2 linked regions of the Homo sapiens genome follow. Each later gene encodes a partner of the first gene's protein in a complex. Each region holds a gene or a part of one and is shown in the gene's direction. Other genes may lie near its edges. The genes, in order: FNIP1 and LAMTOR2.

Region 1 (4,026 bases):
GACACTGTCTTGTTTCCATGGCTGAGTAGCTTTTGTACCATAGTTCACCAATTGCAGAAAATTATCCTATCTTGTTATTATTGTAAAATTTCTGATCTACACTATTCCATAAGAGCAGTTTTTCTTGGAGCTAAGATTTAGATGAACAAGCACTACTATAATGCTCTGTAAAAGGCATATATGACTATATTTGCTTACATAATCAAGTTGATGATTGTAGAGTATGTTCATGTGTATATATCCAGGATTCTAATCATATTCCTTGTTTTCACACATTTTAGCGGATTACCTAACATTGTAACCTTTTAGTGGAAATTACTGGAATGTGAACACATTTACTCTTCATTGTTCTCAGATTGGTATCAATTTAGCCCTTCTTGTTTTGATTAATATTTTCTTTCCCTGTAAATATTAGATATAAAAAATATATATTTGTAGAAAACTTGGAAAACACTTTTAAAAGGCAAAAATATATATTAGCCATTTTATCAGCCAGAAATACCTGCTTTTTTGTTTTTTAAAGAAAATGGGGATCATACTATTCAAATAAATATCTCAATTTATTATAGAGAATTTTGAAACATACATTGTTATAGGCAGAAACAGTACAGTGAACTATGATATACCCACCACTTGGTCCCAGCAAGCACTCATACTGTTCAGTAGCTTGCTTTTTTTCATTTAATAGTATATTATAAATATGTCACTGAATATGCTTCCAAAATATGACTTTTAGTCACTCCTTGCTTCTTTAGATATTATGTTTTAGATTCTTATACTGTGTATCAAATCTTCACAGAGCTCTCAAAGCTTGTTCAACTGAGTAATAGCTCTTGGTGTTGGGTTGGTGCCATGCTATTGAAAAAAATAAGGGAATGCAATGAGATGAGCATGATTTCGTTTGCTATTTAAAAGGAGCTGTTCATCCACCTGAATAGCAATATATTTTATAACTGACAGTTTCATCTTTATTTATAGTTCACAGCAACCCAATGGACATGCCTGGAAGAGAGCTCAATGAGGACAGAGACAGTGGCATAGCACGGTCTGGTAATGTCACGTTCTTGTATTCAGTTTTTTATGAGATTACTGTTGGCATTGATTTTCTTTTTTATCCCTCCCTTTATTATCAAATTTGTTCATATTGATATTAGCCTTACAAGAGAACTGTGAAAAGACCAGAGCAAAGTCTTATAAATTTAATATTTTTCATGTTTACTTTTAAGTGTGCTAAGTAGGATAAAGCCAGGATGAAGTAAAGCCAGAGTAAAGTACACTGGTTGAAGCTTAGTGAATATAAGAAGAAAAGCATTGGTCAGAAAAACTGCTTAGAAACTGTAGTAAAAAAAAAACACGTTTGCTTATATTTGCTTGCTGCTAACTAAAGTTTAAATTGTCATATTGTCTCTTGCCCAGAAAAGCATAGGCATTTTGAATCAATGTTATACTTTTTTTTTTTTTCCAAATATGGACCTGTCCAAAATTTGTAGGTCTAGCAAACATTTATTGAAACATGGTGGACATTAAAAAAATTAAAGCCCAGAGTCTGCCCTTACGGAACACAGATGTATGGAGTCTACTGGGAGAAAAATTAGGAAAATCATCTGTCATAGGTCATTGTGTGATGCATTTAGTGATAGGCCTGCGCAAAAAGCTTCAGCGAAAGAGCACCACACTTAGCCTGGGCAAGGGGCAGGGATGCCAACAATGCTTTACAGAAGGATGATGATTGAGTTGTATTTTGAGAAATAAATAGCAGTTATCCAGGCAAAAGCTCAGAAAAGCATTTTAGCTAAAAGGAAAAGTGTTTGTTGGGGCCCAGAGAGCAGCATAAGTAAAAGGAGGAGTAATTTTAGGCTTGAATTACTGTTAGATATGAGAAACTTAATTCAGTGTGATAGCATGTGTTGTTACATTATATGGCTCTGCTATCGAAATTGTTTTGTAATTCAGTTTTGAGTATAAATGAAAAATCTAAACTTGCTGTATATTGCAATCCCTAGGTATGTATTAGAATAACAAAGAGAAGTTTTATAAAAAATTCAAGTGCCTGAACTCTACTTTCAAAGACTCTCGTGTAACCTAGAGAAGGTATCTCTAGGCATCTGTATTTGTGAAACAAAACAAAATGCAAAACCTAACACTTGATTCTAATGGATAGCTAGGGTTGCCGACCACTACTCTAATAAGAGTAGCTTGTGTTTTTCAAGTAATCTCATCTTTCTTTTCTAATTGAGTTTCTTATTTTTGTTTTAAAGAATCTAGAGTTTATTTCTTTTAATAAACTTTGCTTCGATGTAATCTAGATATTTAGTCTTCCCTGGCAGGAATTTAATTCTCATTATTTTATTTAAGATTTAAGTATAATTTATTTATACTTACATTCTTTGTAAGTTGAAGCATCTGGCTAGACTGATCTGTTAGGCTGCTTCAAGTTATTGGATTCATATATGCCATTTAAGTTAATGTGTGTTTTCTTTTTTTTCTAATAGGGTTATTTTTAATATTAGAATGCAGTGAAATGTATTTTTTCCAAACTTAGGACAGCATTTTATTTTTCACTGAAGTCATACCCAGATTTAGTTGTACATACCCAATCTTGGACTACAAGAGTTTATAATACTAATTGATAAAATGTGGTCTGCATTTAGAATCTGCATTCTAAAGTAATTTAGAATGAGTTCATTGATGGTCTACATGTTTGCATGGCACATACAGCTTTATCCTCTATCATTGAATTTGTCAGAATTCAAATGAATAGATCTTCATAATGAAAGTGTCTCAGTTTTTAGTGCTGGTGTCCAAAATAATTTATCATCTGGCCTGTACCTTTTTAATAGTGATGATAATGGTTCCCTGTTTTGAATATACATTTTCAGTATGTGCTTATGATCATGAAAGATAGAAGTCTGGAATATTGCCAAACAAAAGCAAGCCCTTAATGGCAAGTGTTATCCTCTCTAAATCCAGTGGGGAAAAGCCTGATGAAAATCTCCTAGCCTAATGAAAAATCAGCAGTTGTAGCTCTTAACACCTCAAGCAATAAACATATCTTACAGATTTCACAGAAGTGTTTCGGGAAGGGAATAATCCATCCCCAAGATCAGGGGATTGCAGCCGTGAAAGAGTGGAGTCTGCTGGAATGTGTTTGTCACCTTAGATGCTCCAGGGAGCATTCTTTTTTTGGAGCTTAGTAGGTATAGTCATGATTCTTAATTAAAAGTGGTAGGTTTGACTACATGTGCACATGTGATCCATGAATACTTGTAAATGACCTCTTTAAATGCCATTCAGACACTTATTTTCAATAGCTTGTTCTTAAAATCCAGCTGCTGCATTAAGTTTGAATAGCATCAGATTTCCTTTAATTTAAGAACTAAAAGGATTCAACTGAGTTAGGGGACAGTCAATCCAGTGGCCAAAGGGATAATGCCTTGTTGCAAAGTATAATTTTCTTCTGGAGTCCCTAGAGGGGAATGCCAAAAGGGGATTGTCTCAGAGTTTTTTGCTGATACATTGTTAATATATGATTTTTCTCCTCTGAGACCTTGCTACAAGAAGGATGTGTTCTTTTAATGAACATTTTTGAGGCTCATGAAGCAAAATAAAGTTTAACTTAACCTATTTGTAATTTTGTTAAAAAGAAATTTGTCATTATGCTTAGTCATTATTGACTTATACTTGTTGTTCTTCTGACTTAACAGCATCTCTCAGCAGCTTGCTGATCACTCCATTTCCTTCCCCAAACTCCTCACTTACCCGAAGTTGTGCCAGCAGCTACCAGCGACGTTGGCGACGCAGCCAAACAACAAGTTTGGAAAATGGGGTATTTCCTAGATGGTAAGTTGGAACTTTAAACACAGAACAAGATTGAGTAGTTCCTTAAACACAATTTTATATGGGTTTTTTAGAACCTGGACTTGTATTCTGTGTATTTTAAGTTTGAAACTGAAAACTTTTAAAATTTACTACATTTTTAAAATTGTGGTAAGTTATACATAACAAGTTACAATTTTAACCATTTTT
Region 2 (4,284 bases), on another chromosome or scaffold:
TCCCCTCAAACCCAGGGTCCTTCCCCCTTCCCGGTGCAAGGTGTCCCCTCCTCACTCTCCACCACGCCCCCAGGCCACAAGGCAAAACCCGCCCCTCAACACGCGCCACGCTCCCCCAGATCTCCCCTCGCAGGGCGCCCCCTACCCGCCTCTCCTTGCCTTCAGCTCCTCGGAGTCCCAGCCGGCCCCCGCCCTCCTCTCCGGGGCCCTCCGGGACGCCGGACCGTCAGAGAGGCCCCCCATCTCTTCGCAGACCCCTCCTCCGCGCTCCCCCCGCCCCCCGCCTGCTGTACTACCTCCTTGACCGAGGCTCGATCGCAGATCACAATTTCCTCCTTGTCCTTGGGGGTCTTGACGGTGACCCGAATGGGGGGCCTCGTCTCGGCCCCGCTCGGCTCCGCCATGCCGCCGCCGCCACCCGGCCGCCCGCCAGCCCGCCCGGCTCCTCCTCCTCCCCGCCCGCCCGGCCGGCCCGGCTCGGCTTCTGCGCCTCCAACACTCCCCTCTCTCCACCTCTCCCCTCCCCTCCCCTCCCCTCCTCTCTCCTCCCCTCCCCTCCCCGAGGCTTCACCGCCCCCTCCGGACCAGCCGCAGCCACAGCGCCCCGGGCGGACCGGGGGGGCCACTGCAGCGGGGTCCGCCCAGGGCCAAGCCCCAGGTCCGGAGCCCGGCCAGGGTCTCGCCAGGCGGGGGCCCCTGGGGGGCCTCTGGGAGGGGGAAGGGGCGTGCCCTTCATTGCGGGGGCGAGGGCGGACTGCCCCGGGAGACCGCGACCCAACGCTGCCCGCCCGAGCCGTGCCGCGGTCCCCTCCAGCCCAAAGCCTCCCCGCCCCCTCCGCGGCTAACTCGGCTCCGGGACAAAGGACTTTCTGTGTCGCCGCTTTATCTCCGTTCCCTGTGATAACTTGGTCTTTCTTGGAAGCCCAAGTCCCTTCCAGGCCAGGGGACTTTCCCGACTTGGAGGTTGGGTTTTCCCACCAAGCACGTCCACCTAGGTTCTCAGCTCTGGGACTGACCCTATAGCCCCGAGGGTCGCGGCCTGAATGGTCTATTAAGAACGGTTCCAGGGAGCTGGGTTTTGGCTGCGTGGCCTTTCAGAGCCTTGGTTTCCTCAAGATAATAATAATAGTACCTCTCGCCTCATCGCACAGAATTGTGCATAACGGAGAAAACTGTTTTGAAAGTAACCAAAGGCGTGCCTGACAAATATGAGGATGTAGTATAATTATTGAATCGTGGACTGCCAAGCGGACACGTTGATTCCTTTCTCCCCGAAGGGGTTAAATGTCCTTCCAGCGCTGCTGCTGTCCTTTCACTCCCGTTCTTTTCCGCCCCCCAACAACCGCGTGGTCGGCTTGGAAAGGCGAACTATAATTCCCAGGGTGCCTCGCGAGGCCACAAAGAACTACGATTCCCAGAGCCCCCCGCGGTGGGGCGGGGTTGAGTCGGAACCACAATAGCCAGGCGAAGAAACTACAACTCCCAGGGCGTCCCGGAGCAGGCCAACGGGACTACGGGAAGCAGCGGGCAGCGGCCCGCGGGAGGCACCTCGGAGATCTGGGTGCAAAAGCCCAGGGTTAGGAACCGTAGGCATGCTGCGCCCCAAGGCTTTGACCCAGGTGCTAAGCCAAGCCAACACTGGAGGCGTCCAGAGCACCCTGTGAGTGCAGACCACGGACCCGAGCGGCGAGCGCTGCAGTGGGGCGGCGCGCGGCTCCCTGAGGGAGGGGTGGGGAAGGATCACCAGGAAGGGAGGAAGCGGCAGAGGGGGCAGCGGCTGGGGATACCGGCCGGGAGGTCCCCTGTCGAAAAGGGAAGCCGGTGTGCTGGGTGCTTAGGGCATGTTCCGGGACACGCTCAGGCCAGAGCCTTGCTGGATGTGCCCTTGGTGGGACTTGGGATGGAAACCCAGACGTTTTACTCCCCGCTCTGAGCACATCGCTATCCCTCCCCGCCCCTCACCAGGCTGCTGAATAACGAGGGATCACTGCTGGCCTACTCTGGTTACGGGGACACTGACGCCCGGGTCACCGCTGCCATAGCCAGTAACATCTGGGCCGCCTACGACCGGAACGGGAACCAAGCGTTTAATGAAGACAATCTCAAATTCATCCTCATGGACTGCATGGTATGGAGAGGGGAGCCAGACTTCCCCTGTCCCCCAAAGGGGATCCCAAGGGGGCGACCTGGACCCCATCCTGGATGGTTGGAGGGGCAGGGACAGGATCTCCGGAAGATTACTAAGAGTTGGTCTGCAGCAGCATTTGTAATAGGCAGGACCCTATTCATCAAGTGGTGGTGAGGAAGGATCCCTGGACCTGAGAGGTCTGACTTGGGTTCTGGTCTCAGCCATCCACTTATCAGTTGTGGAACCTTGGGTAAGTCGCTTAACCTCTCTCAGCTTCCTTACCTCATGTTTAAGGAGAAGACAATAATTTCCCTCTCCCCGCTCCCCTCATGGGTTGTTGTGAAGGTCAGATGAAATAATGGGTATAAACAGTAGAATGACGTGCAAACACAAAGTGTTGTCATCCCAGTTTCACCGACTCACAGAACCATGGCAGTCTCCAGACCCTAGTCCAACCCCTTAAGCTTTCAAAGAAAGGAAAATGAAGTCCAGAAAGGGGAAGTCACCATTAGATTGTGAACTTCTTAGTATCTGTTCGGTCGACAAGTATTTAGGTCCTTGCAGTATTCTCAGGACTAGGGAAAAAATAGCAAACAGAAAGACAAAACCCCCAGCCCTAATAAATCTTACACAGTGATACAATCACGGCTCACTGCAGCCTCGACCTCCCTGGGCTCAGGTGATCCTCCTGCCCCAGCCTCCTGAGTAGCCGGGACTACAGACATGCACCACCACACCTCGCTAATTTTTGCATTTTTCCAGAGACTGGGTTTTGCCATGTTGCCCAGGCTGGTCTCAAACTCCTGGCTCAAGCGATCTACCCACGTTGGCCTCCCAAAGTGCTGGGATTACAGGCGTGAGTCACTGTGCCTGGCCACATTTTTTAAAATAAGTAAAATATATAGTATATATTAGGTATTGAAAATGCAATGGAGAGAAAGCAGGGAAGTGAAAGAGTATGAGTTTGTTGGGTGTATGTGTCAGGGACAGTCTCACTGAAAAGGTGACATTTGATCAATGATCTGAAGAAAGGTGGGGGACAAGCCATGTGGTTATCTGAGGGAAGAATATTTTGGACAGAACAGCAAGTACCAAGGCCCTGAGGCAGAATTATGCCTGCTCAAGGATCAACAGGGTTGGTTGGTATGGCTGGAGTTACGTGAGATGGAGGAGGGTAGTAGGAGATGAGGTCAGAGAGGCAGGGAGTGCAGTGCTTGGTTCCTGGCATACAATAAATACCTAGTAAAAGTTTGCTGAACTTACTTTTGTTTTTTTCAAATTGGCCAGAAGGTGAACTCTCCAGGAAGGATCTTCATTGTAACTCAACTGCCTACTCTCCCCTACCCCCTGCACAACCAATGCCATTTTTAGTTCAACATATGACTCCTACTGGATGCCTAGAGCTGGTGCTATAGGGCAATAGCTTTCAAACGTTTTGACCACAACCCAGCCATAAGAAATACATTTTAAGGGGCTGGGCATGGTGGCTCATGCCTGTAATCCCAGCACTTTGGGAGGCCGAGGCGGGCGGATCACAAAGTCAGGTGTTCAAGACCAGCCTGGCCAACATGGTGAAACCCCATCTCTACTAAAAATACAAAAATTAGCTGGGCATGGTGGTGCGTGCCTGTAATCCCAGCCACTCAGGAGGCTGAGGCAGGAGAATCACTTGAACCCAGGAGGCAGTGGTTGCAGTGAGCCGAGATCACGCCACTGCACTCCAGCCTGGGCAACAGAGCAAGACTCCATCTCAAAAAAAAAAAAAAAAAAAGAAATACATTTTAAGGCTGAGCACAGTGCCTCACTCCTGTAATCCCAACACTTTGGGAGGCTGAGGCTGGAGGATTATCTGAGGCCAGGAGTTCAAGACCAGCCTTGGTGACCTAATAAGACCCCATCTCTACAAAAAAAATTTTAATAAATAAATAAATAGGAAAAAATTTTTTAAGAAAGACATTTTAAGTCAGAGCTCAACACACACATAGACCCACTAAAACAAAAGTCATGAAACAATACTTTTCCTACTACATGTAATATACTTCATTTTTTCTTTTTTGGTTTTTAATGCTGATCAACCTTCTTAATTTATCTCCTAACTGTGGGGTCAAATCTGCAATTTGAAAAACATTACCATGGGAAAAGAGGAGAAATACCAG

What was found.
Region 2: FNIP1 (region 1) and LAMTOR2 share a complex: the UniProt entries of both Homo sapiens proteins name them as parts of the lysosomal folliculin complex.

What each region holds. Positions count from the first base shown.
Region 1 is NC_000005.10:131,706,225-131,710,250, reverse strand, and holds part of FNIP1 (folliculin-interacting protein 1), read left to right. Parts: intron 1-978; coding exon 979-1,050; intron 1,051-3,704; coding exon 3,705-3,840; intron 3,841-4,026. UniProt on the Homo sapiens protein: Binding partner of the GTPase-activating protein FLCN: involved in the cellular response to amino acid availability by regulating the non-canonical mTORC1 signaling cascade controlling the MiT/TFE factors TFEB and TFE3.
Region 2 is NC_000001.11:156,053,298-156,057,581, forward strand, and holds the start of LAMTOR2 (ragulator complex protein LAMTOR2), read left to right. Parts: upstream 1-1,484; 5' UTR 1,485-1,592; coding exon 1,593-1,660; intron 1,661-1,965; coding exon 1,966-2,128; intron 2,129-4,284. Other genes in the region: UBQLN4 (ubiquilin-4), read right to left, coding at 297-404. UniProt on the Homo sapiens protein: As part of the Ragulator complex it is involved in amino acid sensing and activation of mTORC1, a signaling complex promoting cell growth in response to growth factors, energy levels, and amino acids.